7 linked regions of the Homo sapiens genome follow. The protein of the gene in region 5 interacts with the protein of the main gene of each other region in a pairwise test. Each region holds a gene or a part of one and is shown on either strand. Other genes may lie near its edges. The genes, in order: DDX3X, PFDN1, BTG3, TACC3, EIF3C, ALKBH4 and AAGAB.

Region 1 (3,307 bases), on a different chromosome or scaffold from region 5:
ACTTCATAGCTTTGGGAAGGGTTTTTTTCCTTTTAGTCATCTTTTTCAAAGCCTAATTAAACAATTTAAGTTCAGCACTATAGAAACTTGATGGCAAATTACGTAAGGGAAGGATTGTATTTAATGATGGATAACTTCATTAATTTCTCTCTCTTTTTAAATCTCTCATTAGGTGGCTATGGAGGCTTTTACAACAGTGATGGATATGGAGGAAATTATAACTCCCAGGGGGTTGACTGGTGGGGTAACTGAGCCTGCTTTGCAGTAGGTCACCCTGCCAAACAAGCTAATATGGAAACCACATGTAACTTAGCCAGACTATACCTTGTGTAGCTTCAAGAACTCGCAGTACATTACCAGCTGTGATTCTCCACTGAAATTTTTTTTTTAAGGGAGCTCAAGGTCACAAGAAGAAATGAAAGGAACAATCAGCAGCCCTGTTCAGAAGGTGGTTTGAAGACTTCATTGCTGTAGTTTGGATTAACTCCCCTCCCGCCTACCCCCATCCCAAACTGCATTTATAATTTTGTGACTGAGGATCATTTGTTTGTTAATGTACTGTGCCTTTAACTTTAGACAACTTTTTATTTTGATGTCCTGTTGGCTCAGTAATGCTCAAGATATCAATTGTTTTGACAAAATAAATTTACTGAACTTGGGCTAAAATCAAACCTTGGCACACAGGTGTGATACAACTTAACAGGAATCATCGATTCATCCATAAATAATATAAGGAAAAACTTATGCGGTAGCCTGCATTAGGGCTTTTTGATACTTGCAGATTGGGGGAAAACAACAAATGTCTTGAAGCATATTAATGGAATTAGTTTCTAATGTGGCAAACTGTATTAAGTTAAAGTTCTGATTTGCTCACTCTATCCTGGATAGGTATTTAGAACCTGATAGTCTTTAAGCCATTCCAGTCATGATGAGGTGATGTATGAATACATGCATACATTCAAAGCACTGTTTTCAAAGTTAATGCAAGTAAATACAGCAATTCCTCTTTCAACGTTTAGGCAGATCATTAATTATGAGCTAGCCAAATGTGGGCATACTATTACAGGGAAAGTTTAAAGGTCTGATAACTTGAAATAGGTTTTTAGGAGAATTCATCTACTTAGACTTTTTAAATGCCTGCCATAAATGAAATTGAAATGGTAGAATGGCTGACCACAGCAATGACCAGCCCTCATTAGGGCCCTGGATGATTTTTGGTCTAATAACGCATGCTAGTGTTGATGTTTTTTGGTCAAGAGGGTATGAACAGGAAGAATTAAATGCAGCAGGCTTTATTTTAAATGCCGATTCACATTACTCTGTTCAAGCTGCGTTGAGATGTTAAACTGGCTTACTATAGACTTCGTAAAAATGGCTCCAGAAGAGTAACAAACTGAAATCTTTGAGATCACACAGGTTGGAAATATGTACATAACTGCACAAGGTGTCAATTCTGCTCTACAGTGCAGTTTTAGTCAGTTTTAGTTGCATAGGTTTCCATTGTATTTATAGTCTGTTTATGCTAAATCTGGCCAAAGATGAGCATTGTCCACCACTAAAATGCCTCTGCCACTTTGAATTCTGTGCTAATTTTGTGGCCAGAATGCGGTGATCAAAACGCTCCATCTTTTTACAGTGGCATAGGAAGACGGCAAAAATTTCCTAAAGTGCAATAGATTTTCAAGTGTATTGTGCCTTGTTCTAAAACTTTTATTAAGTAGGTGCACTTGACAGTATTGAGGTCATTTGTTATGGTGCTATTTCAATTAGTCTAGGTTTAGGCCCTTGTACATTTTGCCCATAACTTTTTACAAAGTACTTCTTTTATTGCACATTCAGAGAATTTTATATATATGTCTTGTGTGCGTGTCCTTAAACTTCCAATCTTACTTTGTCTCTTGGAGATTGTTGAACGCAGCTTGTCTAGGAAGGGGATGGGACTAGATTCTAAAATTTATTTGGGACCATGGGAATGATAGTTGGGAAGAAAACTATTTGCACACGACAGATTTCTAGATACTTTTTGCTGCTAGTTTTATGTAATATTTATTGAACATTTTGACAAATATTTATTTTTGTAAGCCTAAAAGTGATTCTTTGAAAGTTTAAAGAAACTTGACCAAAAGACAGTACAAAAACACTGGCACTTGAATGTTGAATGTCACCGTATGCGTGAAATTATATATTTCGGGGTAGTGTGAGCTTTTAATGTTTAAGTCATATTAAACTCTTAAGTCAAATTAAGCAGACCCGGCGTTGGCAGTGTAGCCATAACTTTCTGATGTTAGTAAAAACAAAATTGGCGACTTGAAATTAAATCATGCCAAGGTTTTGATACACTTGTCTTAAGATATTAATGAAACACTTCAAAACACTGATGTGAAGTGTCCAGATTCTCAGATGTTTGTTGTGTGGATTTTGTTTAGTTGTGTGTTTTTTTTTTTTTTTCAGTGAATGTCTGGCACATTGCAATCCTCAAACATGTGGTTATCTTTGTTGTATTGGCATAATCAGTGACTTGTACATTCAGCAATAGCATTTGAGCAAGTTTTATCAGCAAGCAATATTTTCAGTTAATAAGGTTTCAAAAATCATGTAAGGATTTAAACTTGCTGAATGTAAAGATTGAACCTCAAGTCACTGTAGCTTTAGTAATTGCTTATTGTATTAGTTTAGATGCTAGCACTGCATGTGCTGTGCATATTCTGATTTTATTAAAATAAAAAGTTGAACTGCACAGTCTCCTTTGTTGTTGTCAATTGTGGTTTATTTTCAGAGGTGTAAATAAAGTGCTCTTGCCTGAAAAATTGTAAAATGTTATTTTTTGCTTGTCATCCAGTGCTATTTTTTGAGATGCCTCTTGGATACAGAATGACTCATACCATAAGTATTTGCAATGAAAGATGAAGATAGTATTAGTTTGAAATACAGTGAAACAGGATTTTTGTAATAGACGGAAATCTAAAAGGCCCTTACTGATAATACAGCATGTATTAGAAATTGGCTTATACTTTGAACAATTTGACATGGGTGGGAGTCTCTTTGTTCTTTGAAGTATCTATTATGAAGGATGGTTGAACAGTGGAAGAATGAGCAGGATAAAAGTCAAGTGTGTCAGTAGTCCAACAAGTGATGGTAAGTATATACTTAGGGAAGGAATCAAGACTATTTGGGCCAGGTGTGATGATTACATAGTCCTATAGTGCTAGTTTACTTGGAAGCTGAGGGGCAGGAAGATTGCTTGAGCCCACGAGTTCAAGTCCAGCCTGGGCAACGTATAGCAAGACCTTATCTCTGAAAACAGGTA
Region 2 (3,500 bases), on a different chromosome or scaffold from region 5:
AGGACAATGTTATTCGCCAAAGACTGAGCAAAAGCAAAAAAGCACAAAAACATAACATGTGTGAGGAAACCTATGTGGCAAGGGTAGGATAACAATTTCTAGTACATGTGCTACTACTCTTCTACCCTCACTGTGTAACAGACATCACTAATCAATTAAAGCATGTTTAAAACCCATTTGACATCTCAAAATTCTTCTCAACATATAACACAAACTAGTAGAAGGAGGTAGGTCCATGAGATGAAATATACATGCTATCCTAACCCTGGAAAAAGAAAGTGGTGGGACTTGAGGCAAAGGGTAAATTAAGAACAGATTATGAATAACCATGAATGCAAGGCCAACAAGTTTAGATTTTATCCTGTGGACAACAGAGGATGAACAAAGGACTTTAGGAAGAATATTGATGTGATTAATTCTGAAAGATATGTGAAGAATGGATTTGGACAGACAGAATGAAGGCAGGAAGAAAGAACAGTTAAGATGCTATCATAAAAGTCCAGGCAAGAAGCAATGAGACCTGAATTTCAGCAATGGGAAAATCTACTGCATGTTCTAAAAGAAAAATGAAGTTTTGGATTTTATTATAACCATTTTATTACGGTTTTAAAATGAAAATTTGGGAAAAAGTAATATTCTAGTCAGAATTCCCAAATAACACTCAAAATGGAAAAGAAAAAACAAAGTAAGGTAAAGACTAGAATTAAAGAAGTGAATCACAATGATACCCAAAATTACTCGACTATAAATTCAGAAATAGATATCTCAGGTTTAGCATCAAGAAAGAGAACATCCTCATGACCAGACTAATACTCAGCAAGTCTTTTCTTCCTCTCAGGGCACTAATACGCTAGCCAAACAACAAACGCTATTCACCTTACATGCCCCTACAATACAGGGTCAAACTCATACTCCCGGTGAGATGCAGACAGCACTAAAGTCAAATTTAAAACAGAAGTCTGAAATCATGTAGAAGCTCAACTTTATCCAAACATTTAAAACTCCACACTTCTTTTAAGAAACGTAATTTATATGAAATAAACCTTCTGGAAATAATACCATTCTACTATTTATTAATTCATATCCTAGCCTTTAAACTCCAAAATTCTTGGTATGGAAAACAACTTATCTGTAGCACTTTGGAAAATATGTACAAAAAACAACTCTCCTAACACTTCTGCAGAACGTTTAATAAATGAAACTATTCTAATTAAAAATTAAAACTTCACTGTAGCTCAAAAGCCCAAAGGGAGTAAAACGTTTTTTCTATTTTGAAAAAGGAATTCTTTAGCTATTGCAAACAAAGGCTAGCGCAGTGATGTGAAATCCAAGTACAACATGTTAATAAAGCTGGCATTACTGTTTTAAGACCTAAGGATATTCACATTAAGGATAAAATTATCCTGTAGTGAATGCCAACAATGCATTTCATACTACACAGACACATATTCAAGGGTTCTACTTTGTTCCAATTCTTTTGTGTCCCAGTAACAAACTCTCAAATTGGGATCCTTATCCTCTTAAACTAAAATGAAATATATGAGCTTGGACATAAAATTTACTTGTGCTACATTATTCATTCTGAGAAAGCAAATCAGATGAACAATTTAACATAATCTAATTCTGAACCATAAAGATATGGATTAGTCAGTGATGAGCAGGTCTACTTCTCATGATGTCATTCCAAAGTCATTATTAAATTTTACACATGTTATTCTTTCTTCAAATCAATCACAAAACAAGTCATCCCGAGACTGAGGTCAAATTCCATTCTAACTAAAAGATCTCCAAATCTGAAGTAATGGTCTACTTACTAAGTAATACTCAAAGACCAAATTCCAGAAAAACCCTCCTCCTGTACCTCCCCCCAACTTAAAAAAAAAAAAAATCAGTCTTCTCCTTTTAGCTCACTGTAATGGAATGTGACCTGTACTTAAGGGCTTTTCCATTCCTTTTTTTCTGCTTACAGAATATGAAGCAGACCTATTCTCTCTCACAAGGGCAATATGCTTTTAAAAGAAAAAAAAGTGAAATGTACGAAGTTAATAATGTATTAATTAGAACAAACAAAAGTAAAATAATTTACTAGATTTCTCACATGTGAGTTGTCCTCCTATTAGAACAATGCATGACACTTAGAATGAGTGTATTTTTTACTTTTTTTTTTTTTGAGGCAGAGTTTCACTCTTGTTGCCCAGGCTGGAGTGTAATGGCGCAATCTCGGCTCACTGCAACCTCCACCTCCTGGGTTCGAGCAGTTCTCCTGCCTCAGTCTCGTAACTGGGATTACAGGTGTGCGCCACCATGCCTCGCTAATTTTTGTATTTTTAGTAGAGATGGGGTTTCACCATGTTGGCCAGGCTGGTCTCAAACCCCTAACCTCAGGGGATCCACCCACCTTGGCCTCCTGCAGTGCTGAGATTACAGGCATGAGCCACTATGCCTGGCCAGAATGAGTGTATTTAAATGACAATTGAATTTTTATTTTTATTTTACAACACTGATCAGACATCTGAAAGATTTATGATTTGTATCACTCCTAATAAATTAAGCAGGGAAGAGGAGGTTAAAACTGCACCTACTTAAATAAATCTTCTTCACATACAATATAATATTGCTATAAACATTTTCCATGACAAATCATTTTTATTACTGAACTTACACTTAAGTACCTAATCATAGACAGAACAGGAAAGTAAGCACTTAAGAAATGTACTTTGAGGCCAGGGGCGGTGGCTCACGCCTGTAATCCCAGCACTGTGGGAGGCCAAGGCGGGCGGATCAAGAGGAGAGATTGAGACCATCCTGGCCAACACGGTAAAACCCCATTTCTACTAAAAATACAAAAATTAGCCGGGCATGGTAGCATGCGCCTGTAGTCCCAGCTACTCAGGAGGCTGAGGCAGAATTGTTTGAACCCAAGAGGCGGAGGTTGCAGTGAGCCAGAATCACACCACTGCACTCTAGCCTGGCAACAGAGCGAGACTCTGTCTCAAAAAAAAAAAAAAAATGTACTTTAAAGTCTAAACTTAAACACTTTAATTAATCTACCTGAAGTTCAGCTCCTCATTTTAAAAAAAGAAAGCATTTAATTAGATAATCTTTAAAGTTATTTCTAAGATACTTTAACCTGCCGGGTGTGGTGACTCATATCTGTAATCCAGCACTTTGGGAGGCTGAGGTGGGCGGATCAGGAGGTCAGGAGTTCCAGACCATCCTGGCAAATATGGTAAAACCCCGTCTCTACTAAAAACACAAAAATTAGCAGGGCGTGGTGGCAAGCGCCCGTAATCCCAGTCACTCAGGAGGCTGAAGCAGGGGAATCGCTTGAACCCAGGAGACGGAGATTGCAGTGAGCCAAGATCGGGCCATTGCACTCCAGCCTGGGCGATATAGCGAAAACTCCGTCTCAAAAAGAAAAAGATACTTACTTTAAACCAAAGTTTCTTTTGTTTTGAGACAGAGTCTAGCTCTGCTGCCCAGGCTGGAGTGCAGTGGCA
Region 3 (3,500 bases), on a different chromosome or scaffold from region 5:
ACTCCTAGGCTCAAGAGATCCACCCACTTCAGCTACCCAAAGTGCTAGAATTACAGGCATGCGCCACTGGCTGATTTTTTTTTTTTTTTTTTTGAGACGGAGTCTCACTCTGTTGCCCAGGCTGGAGTGCAATGGGTGCAATCTCGGCCCACTACAATCTCCACCTCCCAGGTGTTCAAGTGATTCTCCTGCCTCAGCCTCCTAAGTAGCTGGGATTACAGGTGCCCACCACCACGCCCAGCTAATTTTTGTATTTTTAGTAGAGATGAGGTTTCACCATGCTGGCCAGGCTGGTCTTGAACTCCTGACCTCAGGTGATCCACCCGCCTCGGCCTCCCAAAGTGCTGGGTTTATAGGCGTGAGCCATCACGCCCAGCCCCAGCTGTACTTATAAATGTAACATATATGCTAGTAATTCAAGTCACAGATCAACTAGAAATTTCCTATAAAATTGACTTTAACCCCAATTAAATAAAAAAGGGGGCCTGTTATTTATACTCACAAAAATGAGAACTGAGGCAGTTATTGAGATTAAAGAAAAAAGATAGTTGTTGAAGAATATAGAGGTTTTGCTTAAATTATATTGCTTACTTCAGAGTTTCCTAGGATAACTACTCACCTCTCATCTTAATTTTTTTTAAGGTAAGATGAAAAAATCTTGTTATTCTTCCAAAACATTTTTGAAGATTTTTGATTTTTTTTAAGTTGTCAAAATATGTAACATATGCTGCTGGTTACTTAAAAAAAAATTCTGAACTGTAGGAAAATAGTGTAATAAACTCAAGTAAAACCAAGAGTTTTTATTCAGTGGACATAGGAGAAATCCACAAATCTATTTAAATAGATTGCACAGTGTCAACACTATCAAACAATTTCTAGCATCAGGACAAAGGATATTGTTAAGCGGTTCTTACAAAACACATACAGTTAGAAATGTAATTAAAGTGATTCTAAGTTTGAAAAAAGATAAAAATAAGTAACTCTAAGTAGAAATAATGTCAAGCTTTTGATTCAATAGTTAGCTGAAGTTAATTCATTTCAAGATAGCACTCGTCTCAAATTATTTCTGAATCAGAATGGTTATCTATTATAAAGTAAAAGGCTTAACTGCTATAAAGCCTTTGAAAATGTACATGAGGCTGGGTGCAGTGGCTTACACCTGTAATTCCAGCACTTCAGGAGGCCTAGGTGGGCAGACTGCTTGAGCCCAGGAATTTGAGACCAGTCTGGGTAACATGGTGAGACCCTGTCTCTCAAAAAAACAAAAAAACAAGAACAAAAAATTAAAAAAACAGAAAAGAAAATGTATGTGGAAATCTAGCAGTCTCAGAGATCACACATAGATGAGTTCTATTTCTTCAGATAGCTATGCTGTCTTCCATTCCTATAGGCCAAATGAAACTATAAATACTACTTAAATATAGTACATAACTTCGCTTTTGTATTCTTTTTTAGTTTACCTCATAAAAGTTGCTACAGGGGCTGGGCGCGGTGGCTCATGCCTGTAATCCCAGCACTTTGGGAGGCCAAGGCGGGTGGATCATGAGGTCAGGCGTTCGAGGCCAGCCTGGCCAACATGGTGAAACCCTGTCTCTACTAAAAATACAAAAAATTAGCCGGGCATGGTGGTGTGCGCCTGTAATCCCAGCTACTCGGGAGGCTGAGGCAGGAGAATTGCTTGAACCTGGGAGGCAGAGGTTGCAGTGAGCTGAGATCGCACCACTGCACTCCAGCCTGGGCGACAGAGTGAGACTCCGTCTCAAAAAAAAAAAAAAAGTTGCTACGGGATGGTAGAAAGGGCATTAGACTAGTTTCTCATTCTGGCTCTGCCACTGACTAGCTTGGTCACCAGAGGCAAGTCACTTAATTTCCCTAGGCCTTAGTTTCCTATATGCTGGACGAGGAAGCTGGAGCTGGCTAGATAGTGGTTGATCTACGGCTGGTGACTCTTCGTAGTATAAAATACCTAAACAGAAGCTGGACATGGTAGCTTACATCTATAATTCTAGTACTTTGGAAGGTCAAGGCAGGAAGATTGCTTGAGCCCAGGAGTTCACAATTATAGTGAGCTATGATCATGCCACCGCATTCCAGCCTGGACAACACAGCAAGACCCTCTCTCTAAAACAAAACAAAACAAACAAAAAATAAATTCCTAAACAATTGAGTTCCTCACAACATAAAATTTGTGTTCTCTAATTTCAAGTTTACTTAGCATAAGGTTTTAGCAATACACATTTACTCCATGTCCCCTCCACAGTTGGAAGACTCAACAAATTTCAAGACAATCAAGGGTTAATTCATGTGTTAATGACACTAATATAACAATGACTTAGGCCTATCTTCAGTTTTGCCCATTAATGGAATCAAAATTCAAAAATGGAAAGGCAAGAAATTTGAGAAAAATTCCTGCCTTTGTAAACAGAAACCTCAACCAAGGGCAAATATCTAATGATTGAAGGATCAGCATTATTAACTCAGATTTCTTTGACACCTAGTTTGGTTCTGCATTTTTCCCTTTGTACTATTTTGGTATGAAGGCTCTCTCTTCATGGTAAGAGAAGCTGCTGACTATACTACTATAACATTACAATGTGCAGTCGATATCTTAGGAGAATTAGTAGACACCTGGACAACTTTTAAACTTTCCATTTTTCAATGATCACTGATAAAACATCAAGGCTAATTTAGTTATTTAGAAACAATCAATAGTATTTAACACTCTATTGGGGGAAAAAAAGGATGGCAGAAATCACCAAAAAAAAAAAAAGTTGTAAAATATGTTGAGTAGATAAGCTGGCATCTGTTCTCAGAACTTCTCATCATAGGCAAGATTTATTTTCTATTCTGTATCACGAAGTGATAACCTTTCTAACTATATGGCACTCTTTGTACTCTTGCAGCATTTTATTCTATCAGAGTAAGTGAAGACTATGAAGAATGTTCTCAGTGCATCTCAATTTTTTTTTACAATCTTAGTCTCTAGTATACCAATGAGTTATTATTTTTAAAGATTCTCAGATATTTGATCAATTGTATACTTGCTAGATCAGCTTTAATTTTCAAAATATCTATGTTTCCAGTTTTGGTGAAAAAATATTTCTCAATGTCTTTTTCTTCTGTTAACTTATATCAACCACCTCTACTAAACGATTAATACGTCTTTCTTTTTGGGGTTCTGTTATTGAATGAACACCTGACACTCGCAGGTGATTTCTATTAGCTGTGAAAAAAATCACATCAGAGCCAATTTTTGGCAAATTTACATATAAATTAGAAGCCTACTGAATGAAAAGGTTTTCTAAGATTAATAAGATGAAAGCAAAGTAGCAGTTTTTTCCTACCAGGCATCATCAAGTAATGAAATGTCTACTGAAGTAGAATGTCCGTATAACTAAAGTTTTTATGTTCAGGTACTGAGACTTATTTTAAGCATTTTAAATACATAGGTCCAAAATGTTTATATAATTATGTAACTTGTTAAACATCCTTGGACATAA
Region 4 (3,500 bases), on a different chromosome or scaffold from region 5:
TTTCTAGAAGTCTTTTATGTTAAAGGTATGAGCCCTGCTCTCCTAACACTGACTAAGTTTTGACAAACCACAAGTTTGTGCATGAGTCATTCAAAGTCAAGGGACCCAACTGCCTGCGAAATGACCACCTGCCGATGATGCAGGTGTCTCGAGCTGCCCAAGTGCTCACGGGATCCCCTCCGGGCAGACTGTGTGTGACGTCTGTGCCAGGCAACGTACCCTCAGCGGGGTCTCTGAAGCTCTCCTCTTTCAGCTCCAAGGCAGGCTGCCCCTGCTGATGGGTGGGCACTGGCTCACTGCCTGGACAGCTTGTGGGAAGCGAGGTGCTGGCAGAGTTCAAGGCTCTCTCCTGGAGGAAAGGGCAGAGTCACCCTGTGCAGTGCAGTCAAGGTACTTGGGGTGTGGCTTTGCCTCCCCACAACCTTGTTGAAGTAGACTTGGGGGAGAGGGAGCGGGACATCCCACCCCGTCACCCAAGGCTGCTGGGGGCTTCCACTGCCTGCTACTCTTCTACACGACCAGGCCAGGAGCACAGGTACCCACACAAGCACCCCTTACCTTGCTCTCTGCTGTTGGGGTCTCGGCTGCCAACTGCACCACAGGCGTGTCCTCCGCTGAGGCTGAATGCAGCTGCCTGGGGAGACAGAGTCAGCAGAGGCCCATGCCCCCCACCCCATAACCCCGGCGTCCCCTGCTCCAGCACTGAGCTGCCATCGCCTTTCCCTGCACTGCTGTGCCGGCCACGTGAACATTCAGCTAGAGCGTGCCAGGCATGGGGCTGTCCCAAGCGACCTGGCCACAAAACTGCCTCACCAACCTCACCCAGCAGGAAAACACGCGCCTTGCCTGCCAGCTCTGGGAGAAGCAGGCTGGGAGCTCTAAAGTCAGCACGATGCAGCCAAAGGGAATCACAAGGATGAGTACATCCCTTTTACTGTGAAACTGACAAAAGGCTTCAAATGTGGAGGCTGGGGCAGGTGTGGGCAGCAAGCCACCCAGGGGCCAAGGCAAGACACCAAGGGCACAAGCTGTTCCAGTATCATAAATATACAGAATAAGAATAGTTATACTAGAAATAGATTATAGATATGATTATATATGAATATCGTTAATCATTAGTTTGTAGCTTTACTCTTTATTCTAATATTATAATAATCTTTGTTCTACAATAATAACCTAGGAAACGCCGGGTGCGGTGGCTCACGCATGTAATCCCAGCACTTTGGGAGGCCGAGGCGGTCGGATCACGAGGTCATATCTAGACCATCCTGGCTAACACGGTGAAACCCCGTCTCTACTAAAAAATACAAAAAAATTAGCCGGGCATGGTGGCGGGTGCCTGCAGTCCCAGCTACTCGGGAGGCTGAGGCAGGAGAATGGTGTGAACCCGGGAGGCAGAACTCGCAGTGAGGCGAGATCACGCCACTGCGCTCCAGCCTGGGTGACAGAGCGAGACTCTGTCTCAAAAAACAAACAAACAAACAAATAACCCTAGGAAAAACCAGGCCATATAGAGATAGGAGGTGAAGGCACACGGTGAGAAAGTGACCGGAAGAGGTGTGTGAGCCCTCTGTCACGCCCGGACAGGGCCACTGGAGGGCTCCCTGGTCTAGCGGTAACACCAGCACTTGGGAAGGCACCCGTTACCTAGCTTGGTCTAGCGGTAGCACCAGTGCCTGGGAAGGCACCCGTTAATTAGACTGGGAAAGGGAGTCTCCCTTTCCCTGGGGGAGTTAGAGAAGACTCTGCTCCACCATCTCTTGTGGAATCAGTCAGGCCCGCCCGCAGCCATCCAGAGGCCTGTGTCCCTGTGATGCTGTGCTTCAGCAGTCACGCTCCTGGTCCACTTTCATGATCCGCTCTGTACACCTGGCTCTGTCTTCTAGATAGCAGTAGCAGAATTAGTCAAAGTGCTAAAGTCTTTGAAATACATAGAAAAAATAATGGCGTCAGCTGTCCTCTCTCTCCGCCTTGGCTGCCAAACAGGGAAGGGCCCAGTGGACACGTGACTTGCGTGACCTGACCTATCATTGGAGATGGCTCACACTCCTTAACCTGTCCCCTTGCCTTGTATCCAATAAGTAACAGCGCAGCCAGACATTCGGGGCCATTACCGATCTCCGTGCCTTGGTGGTAGTGGTCCCCCGGGCCCAGCTGTCTTTTCTTCTGTCTTTTTCTTGTGTCTTTATTTGTACAATCTCTTGTCTATGCACACGAGGAGAAAAAACCCACAGACCCAGTAGGGCTGGACCCTACAGGCAGGACAATCTCCCACTGAGCAACTCTAGGAGATGTAGCCTAAGACCATTCAGCCAGGAGGCAGCAGACCCACGGCCAAGACCCCAGCAAGCAGCGGACGCCACCCAGGCAGTAACAGGCTTTGCCTGGCTTTTGGAGTTACACACCCAAGTCAAGTTCACCTGAGGAGGAACATGACTGGGGGACAGGGTCCTGCCCAGGGTTGGTTGCATTTGGCTTCTGGCCTGAGCCCGCCCTTATTGGATCCCTCCTTAGGCCAGGAGCACTAAAGAGATGCATGGCAGCCAAGGCAAGGCCAAGCACCCTCAGCTGGGAGCCACCTGAGCCCTGTTTTTATCCAGAGGCCCCTCCTCAGGCAGAACCTACCCGGCCTCAAAGGAGTATCTGATGACACTTCTGGCCTCGGGTCCTGGACCACATACACTGCAGGGCAGCTGCCCCACGCCACGCTCCCCATCCCATCCTCACACTTACTGGCTCAGACAGGGACCTGGCTCCTCCGTGGCAGGCCCAGCATGCAACTGTTCAGCCGCTGGCTGGCCCAGCCTGGTCTCAGGGCTTTCTGGGGGCTGGGCCTCACTGCAACCAGACTTGGTGTCACCTCCGAACGGGATGAAGTTTGGGTCATCCATTTTGTCCCAGTCGAGGTGGTAAGAGCCCCGAGAAGCTGGCATGGGGGGGTCCTCTCCTGCTCCGCTCCTACCGTCGTCCTCCTCCACCTCCTGCGGGGCCTTTTGCTGCCTCACTGCTGCTTTCCTCAAGGGAGGCTTGAGGCCGGACCTCTCTCCCAGTCTCCTTGGTGGGGGTGCCCTTTTGCTGGTGGCGCCATCAGATACATCAAATTCTAGTTTTACAGGTCCGCTCCTCGAGGAGCTGGCCATTTGGCCTGCAGCCACTTCTTCCTGAGGACTCAGGGTCATGGCCCTGCCAGCCACCAGGTGGTTGGTTGGGGCTGTGCTCTCAGGAGCAGAGGTGTGTGCACAGGTAAGGGTCTGAGTGCCATCTGCTGGCACGGGGGTGCCCACACCCGCAGGGCAGCCCAGGGCTTCGCCAGGCAGACCCTGCAGGGGTGCTCCTCCGCAGGCTTCCTTAGGGATTGCACCAGGAGGCGAAGTGGCCACTGCTGCGGGAGCACAGACCCCACCGTGCCGGCATTCCTCCTCGGCTCCGTGCGGAGTCTCCGCTTTGCATTCTTCCTCGGCTCCGTGCGGAGTCTCCGCTTTGTGCTGGGACTCTGTCCT
Region 5 (3,500 bases):
GATGAAGAATTTACCAAAATAATGCAAAATACTGACCCTCACTCCCAAGGTGAGCCTGAGCAAGCGTGGGCTTTGCTGAGAGGAAAATTGTGGGGAATATTACTAGGTTTAGAGCTTTGTGAGGATTATACTAAGTCAGAGTGCTTGAAAAGCCAGCCTTTCAACTTACCTAGCGTTCACACGGAAGGGCCTGATGAGATGCTGGCTCCCAGTCCCATCGTTTCTGATTCCATAGGTCTGAGTGGGGCTTGAGAACCTGCACCTCTAGCCTGCTCCCAGGTTGCTGGTCTCAGGGCTATACTTTGAGAACCTTTGGGGTAAGGCATCTATTCACTTCTCTTGTTTAGCTTGGATGAGAGGCATTGGGGTGTGAAAGTGCAGCATAGTTTACTCAGTAAAAGTGTGAATGTGCCCATCAAGTCAAGGGTGTAGTGATTAACAAGGCAGCCAAAAGCTTACCTTTTGTGCTGGATGGAGAAAGGCAGATTGAAAAATAATAGTAGTAAGATATGGCCGGGCGTGGTGGCTCACGTCTGTAATTCCAGCTCTTTGGGAGGCCGAAGCAGGCGGATCCCGAGGTCAGGAGATTGAGACCATCCTGGCTAACACGGTGAAACCCCATCTCTACTAAAAATACACACACACACACAAAAAAAATTAGGCGTGGTGCTGGGCGCCTATAGTCCCAGCTACTTGGGAGGCTGAGGCAGGAGAATGGCATGAACCCAGGAGGCGGAACTTGCAGTGAGCCGAGATCACACCCCTGCACTCCAGCCTGGGCGACAGAGCAAGACTCCATCTCAAAAAAAAAAAAAAATAGTATGATGTTAAGATAATTCTGGGCCAGGTGCAGTGGCTCACGCCTGTAATCCTAGCACTTTGGGAGGCCGAGGTGTGTGAATCACCTGAGGTCAGGAGTTTGAGACCAGCCTGGCCAACGTGGCAAAACCCTGGCTCTACTCAAATACAAAAATTAGCCAGGCATGGTGGCAGGTGCCTGTAAATCCCAGCTATGTGGGAGGCTGAGGCAGGAGAATCCCTTGAGCCCAGCGGGCCAGAGGTTGCAATGAGCTGAGATCACACCACTGCACTCCAGCCTGGGCGAAAGAGTGAAACTCCATCTCAAAAAATAATAATAATAATTCTAGATGATATAAAGTTCAGAGTTAAACTAGGGCCCTGTGGTAAGAAGTGGCTGGAGGGGTGGCTGCTGTAGCTAACAGCTGGAGAAAGCACCCTTAAGTAGGGACCACCTGAGGTGAGATCCAATGAGGAGGAGTTAGGGGAAGAATCAGCTGAAGACAGCGCCTGACAGGAGGAGCAGAGAGCGAGCTTGATGTTCCAGGAGTAAAAAGGCCAGTGGGACTCCAGCACAGGAAGCCAGAGGGAGAATCGTGGGAGACCAGGCAAGGGCCAGGCCTGGCAGACCCTTATTGGCAGAGGTTGGCAGTTGGGATTTTTTTCCTAAGCTGTGGGACTGGAAGGTTCTGGGTCCTGGGAGTGGGAGATGGCCTTTCTGGGGCACACTGACTAGACTTTTCTGACGGGTGCAGAAGAGGGACGGGTTGATTGGAATGAGTGGGGACAGATGGGAAAGCCTGGCTGCCCAGCTGAGACAAGGGTGGGTGCTCTCCCTGCCAGAGTACGTGGAGCACTTGAAGGATGAGGCCCAGGTGTGTGCCATCATCGAGCGTGTGCAGCGCTACCTGGAGGAGAAGGGCACTACCGAGGAGGTCTGCCGCATCTACCTGCTGCGCATCCTGCACACCTACTACAAGTTTGATTACAAGGCCCATCAGCGACAGCTGACCCCGCCTGAGGGCTCCTCAAAGGTGAGCACGTGGCAGTCATGGCAGAGGGGAATGGGTGTGTCCACCTGTCCTCCACTTCTGTCAGGACTTGACAGCAAATCTGTTACTCTCTAGACTTCCGCAGGTGGAGCAGGGAGGGAAACTGAGGTATTAGAATGAGACTGGATAGAGTCTCATCTTTAGTTGCTAGAGCCTGTGCCTTTTAAAGCTGGATCTCCTTTGCAAATAACCTCCCTTCCTCCCCAGTCTGAGCAAGACCAGGCAGAAAATGAGGGCGAGGACTCGGCTGTGTTGATGGAGAGACTGTGCAAGTACATCTACGCCAAGGACCGCACAGACCGGATCCGCACATGTGCCATCCTCTGCCACATCTACCACCATGCTCTGCACTCGCGCTGGTACCAGGCCCGCGACCTCATGCTCATGAGCCACTTGCAGGACAACATTCAGCATGCAGACCCGCCAGTGCAGGTAGGATGGGGAGGCCTTGGAGGTGAAGGAGTGCCAGGCCCCTGGCCTCTTGGCAAACTGGCTTAACCAGAACAGCCACCTGTCTGGCCGGTGCAAATTTAAGTAGACACTTGGTCTTTCCCAGTTGCCAGCATCCTGCAGTCCTCCTGCATGTAAACACATAATTTCGTGTCAAAAAAAAAAATTATCCAGGCTTGGTAGTGCTTGAGCCCAAGAGGCAGAGGTTCCAGTGAGCCGAGGTTGTGCCACTGCACTCCAGCCTGGGTAATGGAGCAAGACTGTTCAAAAAAAAAAAAAAGCTGTGTCTGGAAGTGTAGATCATGTAAAAGTATATTTGAGGCAACTAGGAAATGTTTATGTGTAGAGCACCTGGTGAACCTGTCTGGGGGTACTGCTGGTTTTTAAACAGCCCTCCTATTTGTGTTTCTATTCTATGGTATGAACATATCACTGTGTCTGTTTTCCTCTTGGCGGACACCCAGTTTATTTCCAGTTTTTGGCTCTAATGTATGAAGCTGCTGTGAACATTCTTGTAAGAAACTCAAAAGTGGTTATACCATTTTACACTCCTGTTAGTGTTTGGGAGTTCCTTGTCAACTTTTGGTGGTGTTGGTCTTTTTTTGAGAGGGAGTCTCGCTCTGTCGCCAAGGCTGGAGTGCAGTGGTGCAATCTTGGCTTACTGCAACTGCCACCTCCCAGGATCAAGCGATTCTACCTCAGCCTCCCGAGTAGCTGGGATTACAGGTGCCCGCCACCACTTCCGACTAATTTTTGTAATTTAGTAGAGATAGGGTTTCACCATGTTGGCCAGGCTGGTCTCAAACTCCTGACCTCAAGTGATCTGCCTGCCTCAGCCTCCCAAAGTGCTGAGATTACAGGAGTGAGCCATCATGCCGGCGGTGGTATTGGTCTTTTAAACTTTTTTTTGTTTTTGTTTTTTGAGGCAGGGTCTTGCACTGTCACCTAGACTGAGTGTAGTGGCATGATCATGGCCCGCAGTAGCCTCAAATTCCCAGGTTCAAGTGATCCTCCCACCTCAGCCTCCATAGTAGCTGGGACTACAGGCATGTGCCACCATAGCTGGGACTACAGGCATGTGCCACCATGCCTGGCTAATTTTTTATTTTTTGTAGAGACAGGGTCTCACTATGTTGCCCAGGCTGGTCTCAAAGATCTTTTAGGGGTGTGTGTGTGTCTCTTTTAGGGGGTGTGTGTGTA
Region 6 (3,063 bases), on a different chromosome or scaffold from region 5:
GTCCATCGACAGATGAATGAGGAAATGAAATGTACCAACATCCAACAGGATGTCACAAAAGAATGGGGCTGGGCGCGGTGGCTCACGCCTGTAATCCCAGCACTTTGGGAGGCTGAGGCGGGCGGATCACTTGTCAGGAGTTCGAGACCAGCCTGGTCAACATGGTGAAACCCCGTCTCCACTAACAGTACAAGAATTAGCTGGGCATGGTGGTGGGCACCTGTAGTCCCAGCTACTTGGGAGGCTGAGCCAGAAGAATGGCTTGAACCCGGGAAGCAGAGGTTGCAGTGAGTTCAGGTCATGCCACTGTACTCCAGCCTGGGTGGCAGAGCGAGACTCTGTCTCAAAAAAAAAAAAAAAAAAAACCTACAATGAAGGGAGAGGGGGCACCCGGGGATGTTTGGACACAGGTGGGGAAGGAGTTGGAGGGAGCGGCGGGCCCGGGGAGGGGGAAGGTGGGAATGCGTGTGAGGAGACAGGACACGGATGGTGACAATGGGAGGTGGGGGCGCCTGCAGCTTGGGAGAATGGGGTGCCTTCACCACCACCAAGCCAGCTACAGAGGGGCAGAGAGCCCAGGAGCGCATATCACAGGGAGATGGGGTGCCCAGGTGCACCTCTGCCCATCGGACACACGTCCTGCAGCGAGTCTGGCTGCCCACAGCCCCAAGGTCTGGGGAACTCGCCCACTACCAACCCTGGAGGTTTGAGGGGTGTGGCTGCAAGGAGGGGGATGGCCCCCAGCAGTAGGGCTGTCTCCTCAGCGCAGCCCAGCAACCCCCATGAGCTCAGGGCCGGTCTACCTGCTTCCTCCGTCCAGACTGGGAGAGCTTCCAGGGGTCACGGTCCATGAGCCGCACCAACTCGGCTTCTTCCTCCCGGGTCACAAAGTCCTCGATCAGCATCACTCCTGGGAAGGGGAAGGCCCAGCCCTCAAAGTCAGACTCCTCTGTGCCCACGGCCCAGCCGGTGTCGGAGCAGTAAATGAAACGGTATGTTTTCTGCAAAAGAAACACAAGTCCACAGGCTGGGCAACACAGCGAGACCCGGTCCCTACGAAAAGTTAAAACAGGCCAGGTGCGGTGGCTCACGCCTGTAATTCCAGCACTTTGGGAGGCCGAGGTGGGTGGATCACCTGAGGTCAGGAGTTCAAGACCAGCCTGGCCAACATGGTGAAACCCCATCTCTACTAAAAATACAAAAATTAGCCAGGCATGGTGGCAGGTGCCTGTAATCCCAGCTACTCAGGAGGCTGAAGCTGGAGAATTGCTTAAACCCAGAAGGCAGAGGTTGCAGTGAGCCAAGATGGCACCACTGCACTCCAGCCTGGGCGACAGAGTGAGACTCAAAAAAAAAAAAAAAGTTTAAATAAAAATTAGCCGGGTGTGGCAGAGCGCACTTGTCATTTCAGCTACTCAGGAGGCTGAGGCGGGAGGATCATTTGAGCCCAGGAGGTTGAGGCTACAGTGAGCCATGGTCGCGCTACTGCACTCCAGCCTGGACAACAAAGCAAGACCCTGTCTCAAAAAAAAAAAAAGAAAAAAAAAAAAGGAAAGACACATCCTGGAGCCATGGCAGCCCCTGGCACTTGTGTGCCCTCAGGAGACCCTCTGATGGCTCATTCCTCCCCTCAGGACACTGTGGAAGGCAGCTGGAGTCTAGGGGGAGGTGCAGGCAGAGCCTCTGCCCCAGGCTGACCGGGGAAGGCCCGCAGCCCTCTTGAGCTAACACGAATTTGATTGGTTTCCTTTCTCACTTTCCTCCCCTGTAAAAGAGAAGGGTTTGTACAACATGTTTTTCCTTCTCCATTTTACAAAGGAGGCTCAGCAAAGTTAAGGAACCAGCCCGAGGCTGGACAGCACCTCCTGCACTCCCATCTCCTCAGCTGCTTCCAGGAGGCCCCAAACTGCCTGACTACCTTGAATCTGTGCACCCTAATCTCTTTAGGTCTTTGCTGATGCCACCCCGGTGTCCCAGGGGTTGGCCCGTGCCTATCACCAGCGTGAGGGTCACCTAGGAGGGCAGCCAACTTCCCTACAGAGCTGAGCGTTCAGTTGAGCTCCTCAGTGTCCCAACCTCCCTTCTCCTCACTCTTGTCCTCAGGGCACCTTTCCAGACCCAGCATCACCCCTCAATCCTCATACCCTGGGCTGTCACTCAACTCCCACCCCATGTCCCTCTCTGCTCTGCCACCAACCCCGAGGCCTGGCGGTACTCTAAGGGTTCCCCCATGCTAAAGAAAGTCTAGAAACCAGGCCAGGCACGGTGGCTCACACCTGTAATCCCAACACTTTGGGAGGCCAAGGTGGACTGATCACCTGGGGTCAGGAGTTCAAGACCAGCCTGGCCAACATGGCAAAACCCCGTCTCTATTAAAAATACAAAAACTAGCCGGGCGTCGTGGTGCATGCCTGTAATCCCAGCTACTCAGGTGGCTGAGGCAGGAGAATCCCTTGAACCCGGGAGGTGGAGATTGCAGTGAGCCAAGATCGTGCTAGTGGACACCAGCCTGGGTGACACAGTGAGACCCCATCTTGAAAATAATAATAATACTTTTTGTTTGTTTGTTTGTTTGTTTGAGATGGAGTCTCGCTCTGTCACCAGAACTGGAGTGCAGTGGCACGATCTCGGCTCACTGCAACCTCTACCTCCTGGGTTCAAGCGATTCTCCTGCCTCAACCTCCCGAGTAGCTGGGACTACAGGTGCGCGCCACCATGCCCAGCTAATTTTTTTCTTGTATTTTAGTAGAGACGAGGTTTCACCATGTTGACCAGGATGGTCTTGAACTCCTGACCTTGTGATCCTCCCGCCTTGGCCTCCCAAAGTGCTGGGATTACAGGCGTGAACCACCATGCCCAGCCAATAGTAAATTTTTAAAAAAGAGTTTCGCCAATGAAATAGCCAGTATTTGCATCTGTGGCACTGAACATTTTACATGGATTATCTAGTTTCATCCCCAGGACAGCCCCAAGAGGAAGGTACCATAACTATCATGGGCAGGAGGTGTGGAGGTTCTGGCCGGAGTCACCCAGTGAGGACTTCGGAGGCCACCAGAACTCAGC
Region 7 (3,500 bases), on a different chromosome or scaffold from region 5:
TGTATGTCAGTTATTTTGTATAATGTCCCTTAATTGGGTTTGTCAGATTGTTTTCTTATTATTAGATTGCAGTTATGCATTTTTGGTGAGATTACCTTCTCACTGCATCCTATCAGGAGGGCTATTATGTCAATATGTCTTATTACCAGTGATGTTAACCTTCATTACATAATTAAAGTGGCTGGCATCTGATGAGTTTCTCCAGTGTAAAGTTACTATTTTCCCCTTTGTAATAAATAAACATCTTGAGAGAGATACTTTTAGACTATGCAGATATACTACTTCTCCTCAAACTTTCACCTATGCTACCAAGAACTATTACTGTGTTTTGTGCCTAATGATGGCTTTCTATTTTCCTCATTCCTTCTATATTTATTACTTGGGATTCTTCTGGAAGGAGATGCTGTCCTTTCTTTCTCATTTGTTTATTCAATTATTTATTTATATTAGTATGAACTCATGGATACTTAGCTTACTCTATGGGTTATAACCCAATACTATATTAATCTACTTTGCTGGTCAAATTGTTCCAGATTTAGCCACTGGAAGCTCTTTCAGGTTGGTCCCTATGCCCTTTCAACATGTCCCCATTCTTTTTTGAGAATTTTCTTAATTTCTGGTACCAAGAGATGCTCCAGGGTCATCCTGTATTTTTCTTGCCCAAGTCCTGGAATCAACCACTTCTCCAAGGAGCCCTAGTTCCTTTTATTGGAGAATGGTATTTAGAAAGCAAGATCTGGCCAGGCGCAGTGGCTCACGCCTGTAATCCAAGCACTTTGGGAGGTCGAGGCAGGTGGATCACCTGAGGTCGGGAGTTTGAGACCAGCCTGACCAACACGCAGAAACCCCGTCTCTACTAAAAAACAACACAAAACAAAATTAGCTGGGCGTGGTGGCACATGCCTGTAATCCCAGCCACTCAGGAGGCTGAGGCAGGAGAATCGCTTGAACCCAGGAAGCGAGATTGCGGTGAGCCGAGATCGTGCCACTGCACTCCACCCTGGGCAACAAGAGCGAAACTCCATCTCAAACAAAAACAAAAACAAAAACACAACAACACACACACACAAAAAGAAAGCAAGATCTGAGTGCTAAGTGTGTCCACTGCTATGGTGGTATTGTTGCTTCTAGGCCTCTCAGTGGACAGAACTAGGAAATATATGTGTGTATACTAATACACGCATATACACACACATCTGTATTTATTTTCTTAACTGTAAGTATATTTTTAAAGCCATGAGTTCATACTGATACATTAGATTCCAATCCAGTACCAAAGGGTACATCTTGGCCTTCCCTTTTCCTTATTTGTAACCTTTTTCCTCTGGCAGTGAGAAACCTAACTCTCACTATCTATATTTTTTATTTTCTATATGTCAGTATATGTGTGGTGTATAAAATATCTATATATAAAATTTCAGAATTGCTGAGCCATGCTCCTATAAGAAACAAATTTACTAAGTAGAGTTCAGTATCTGTGTTCAGTTATTTTTGTTTTTAGCCTTACGGTATCTAGTCCAATTACTGTTTTCTAAAGTTACTTAGGTTAGTGCTTCAAGTCCCCACCCACTTCAGTGTGATTACTAGTTTGTTTTAATGGCAGAGACTCTGGCAGGTTTAAAAGCCAATGGGAAGGATTCAATTGAGAGGCTAAGGATGAATAAACTGGAAAGAAAAAAAATTATACATAATTTTTTCTTCTTCTTCATATGTTTCTATAACCAATCACTTGAGTTTTCTACATGAATTATCTCATAAGAAAAAAGAGTTTTAAAAATTTATTACTGCACATGAGCCGTCTGTAGCATAAAGATAAAGTAGGAATATCAGTAGTTCCCCAGCGAAAGAAGATTTATAGTTATTGTCAAGTAAGCTCCTTGGTTTTCTGGCTTTTGGACAGCATACTGGATTCCAGCTTCAGCTCCAGGCCCTTCTTGCTAGATGTCCTTGGACAAGTTATTAAACTTCTCTGCAAAACTTCATTACCAAATGAGAAAGGGGATATAAAATAACTTTAAAAGCATATGGAAGGGCTTATAAATATAAAGTTGTATTATTCTTGTCACCATCGATTCTGACTTCTGTTAAATATTATGAAAAAACTACGTGATACAGAGCTAGCTGTTTCGCCACCTGGTTCGGTCTGCCTTGGCTAAGATTATCTGAATCAAGATCCTGCTAGGAGAATTAAAGAGAAAATGGTACCCACATATTTGTTATATATTTATTCTTCTTCCTTTTTCTGATAGCCACTGGCAAGGCTCACATTCATGTGTGGTATACTACCAATTTTTTTCCCTTCTCTGTGTTTAAAGTCAATTTCCCCCTCAACAATTTCTGCCCAGATACCTATTCCAAGTTGCACAAAGCTCTCTCTTGGCAGCCAAAGGAGGAACTTACCCACAATGCTATCAACCTGGGCATCTGTTGTGTTAGATGCACCACCCCGATGATCAGAGAGGGATTCAGTACTATCTGCTGCTGGCAAATGGGGTTGCTGTTGAGGAAAATACACATAAGCAACAATTTAATCGTAGTCTATTTCAGAACTAAATCCAAAAAAGCTCACACTTTCAGTCCTTGGTTGGCTTGAGAAAAGAGTAATAGGAACTGGAGGCAAAGAAAGAAGAGCAAGATCACATTAAAAAAATAAAAGGCTAAAACTTAACTAACCCAGAAGTACTTTCCCCCAAGGAAGAACTAGAAAGCGTTGATTTTGCTTTAGACTACTAAAACATGTTTTTTGTTTGTCTCATTTAAGATCCATGTTATATTCAAAATGTGAAAATGTAACACAATCGTAACACAAATAGCTCAGAGGCTGTTGAAAAAGATCCCTGGAAAGACAATGTGGCACTGTATAATTTGCTCTTGGCTCCAGCTGCTGACCAAGGTAAACCTGGAACAAAGTTCTTAAGGATGCAGGGTTGAAACTGGACTACAAGCTCATTGAGGACAGGGACCTTGCCTCAGATTTGCCAAGGTCTTTTACACAGGAAGTACTAAAAAAGCACCATGAATTTTATTTTCTATTTAAAGATCTGAAGGCAAATTAATGCCTCAGGGAAATCCTAGCATATTTTAGAAAGCACCCTAGTAAAAATAAAACCAAAGCTGTAAACATCTTGAAAGGGCTTACTGCTTTAGCAAGGGCTGTTTTAGACCTTCCTTTCATCTATTTTTAACATTCTCTGTCACCTTTTAAATGGAAAGGAAAACAATGGTGAATGTGTCAAGATTCATAATGACAAGGAGAAATTAAAGCCAAAGAGGGAAAAAAGATCCAAGAAAAACCTTTACCTCTGGGTGACAGGGATCTGCTGACCCAATGCTATGGTTTGTTCCAGTCAATGAGTTGAGAAGGCTAAAGCCTTGGTTCCTATCTGAAAAGGAAAAATACACTTAGTGAAATTTGTCATTTACATTTTAAACTGTTCAAATGGCTATGATGATGAAACAAAGGCTACTTATTTGTTACCAAAGTTCTAACTACATATATA

Evidence for each region.
Region 1: the proteins of EIF3C (region 5) and DDX3X interact in binary tests that used the Homo sapiens proteins (3 or more experiments, as listed by UniProt).
Region 2: the proteins of EIF3C (region 5) and PFDN1 interact in a two-hybrid assay, tested with the Homo sapiens proteins (one large-scale study listed by BioGRID and IntAct).
Region 3: the proteins of EIF3C (region 5) and BTG3 interact in a two-hybrid assay, tested with the Homo sapiens proteins (one large-scale study listed by BioGRID and IntAct).
Region 4: the proteins of EIF3C (region 5) and TACC3 interact in a two-hybrid assay, tested with the Homo sapiens proteins (one large-scale study listed by BioGRID).
Region 6: the proteins of EIF3C (region 5) and ALKBH4 interact in a two-hybrid assay, tested with the Homo sapiens proteins (one study listed by BioGRID and IntAct).
Region 7: the proteins of EIF3C (region 5) and AAGAB interact in a two-hybrid assay, tested with the Homo sapiens proteins (one large-scale study listed by BioGRID and IntAct).

Annotation. Positions count from the first base shown.
Region 1 is NC_000023.11:41,347,468-41,350,774, forward strand, and holds the end of DDX3X (ATP-dependent RNA helicase DDX3X), read left to right. Parts: intron 1-172; coding exon 173-252; 3' UTR 253-2,807; downstream 2,808-3,307. UniProt on the Homo sapiens protein: Multifunctional ATP-dependent RNA helicase. The ATPase activity can be stimulated by various ribo-and deoxynucleic acids indicative for a relaxed substrate specificity.
Region 2 is NC_000005.10:140,296,602-140,300,101, forward strand, and holds part of PFDN1 (prefoldin subunit 1), read right to left. Parts: intron 1-3,500. UniProt on the Homo sapiens protein: Binds specifically to cytosolic chaperonin (c-CPN) and transfers target proteins to it. Binds to nascent polypeptide chain and promotes folding in an environment in which there are many competing pathways for nonnative proteins.
Region 3 is NC_000021.9:17,599,402-17,602,901, forward strand, and holds part of BTG3 (protein BTG3), read right to left. Parts: intron 1-3,500. UniProt on the Homo sapiens protein: Overexpression impairs serum-induced cell cycle progression from the G0/G1 to S phase.
Region 4 is NC_000004.12:1,728,021-1,731,520, reverse strand, and holds part of TACC3 (transforming acidic coiled-coil-containing protein 3), read right to left. Parts: coding exon 2,734-3,500; intron 635-2,733; coding exon 559-634; intron 350-558; coding exon 220-349; intron 1-219. UniProt on the Homo sapiens protein: Plays a role in the microtubule-dependent coupling of the nucleus and the centrosome. Involved in the processes that regulate centrosome-mediated interkinetic nuclear migration (INM) of neural progenitors.
Region 5 is NC_000016.10:28,724,964-28,728,463, forward strand, and holds part of EIF3C (eukaryotic translation initiation factor 3 subunit C), read left to right. Parts: coding exon 1-49; intron 50-1,641; coding exon 1,642-1,832; intron 1,833-2,057; coding exon 2,058-2,282; intron 2,283-3,500. UniProt on the Homo sapiens protein: Component of the eukaryotic translation initiation factor 3 (eIF-3) complex, which is required for several steps in the initiation of protein synthesis.
Region 6 is NC_000007.14:102,458,801-102,461,863, forward strand, and holds part of ALKBH4 (alpha-ketoglutarate-dependent dioxygenase alkB homolog 4), read right to left. Parts: intron 1,002-3,063; coding exon 804-1,001; intron 1-803. UniProt on the Homo sapiens protein: Dioxygenase that mediates demethylation of actin monomethylated at 'Lys-84' (K84me1), thereby acting as a regulator of actomyosin-processes.
Region 7 is NC_000015.10:67,206,162-67,209,661, forward strand, and holds part of AAGAB (alpha- and gamma-adaptin-binding protein p34), read right to left. Parts: intron 3,384-3,500; coding exon 3,301-3,383; intron 2,498-3,300; coding exon 2,401-2,497; intron 1-2,400. UniProt on the Homo sapiens protein: May be involved in endocytic recycling of growth factor receptors such as EGFR.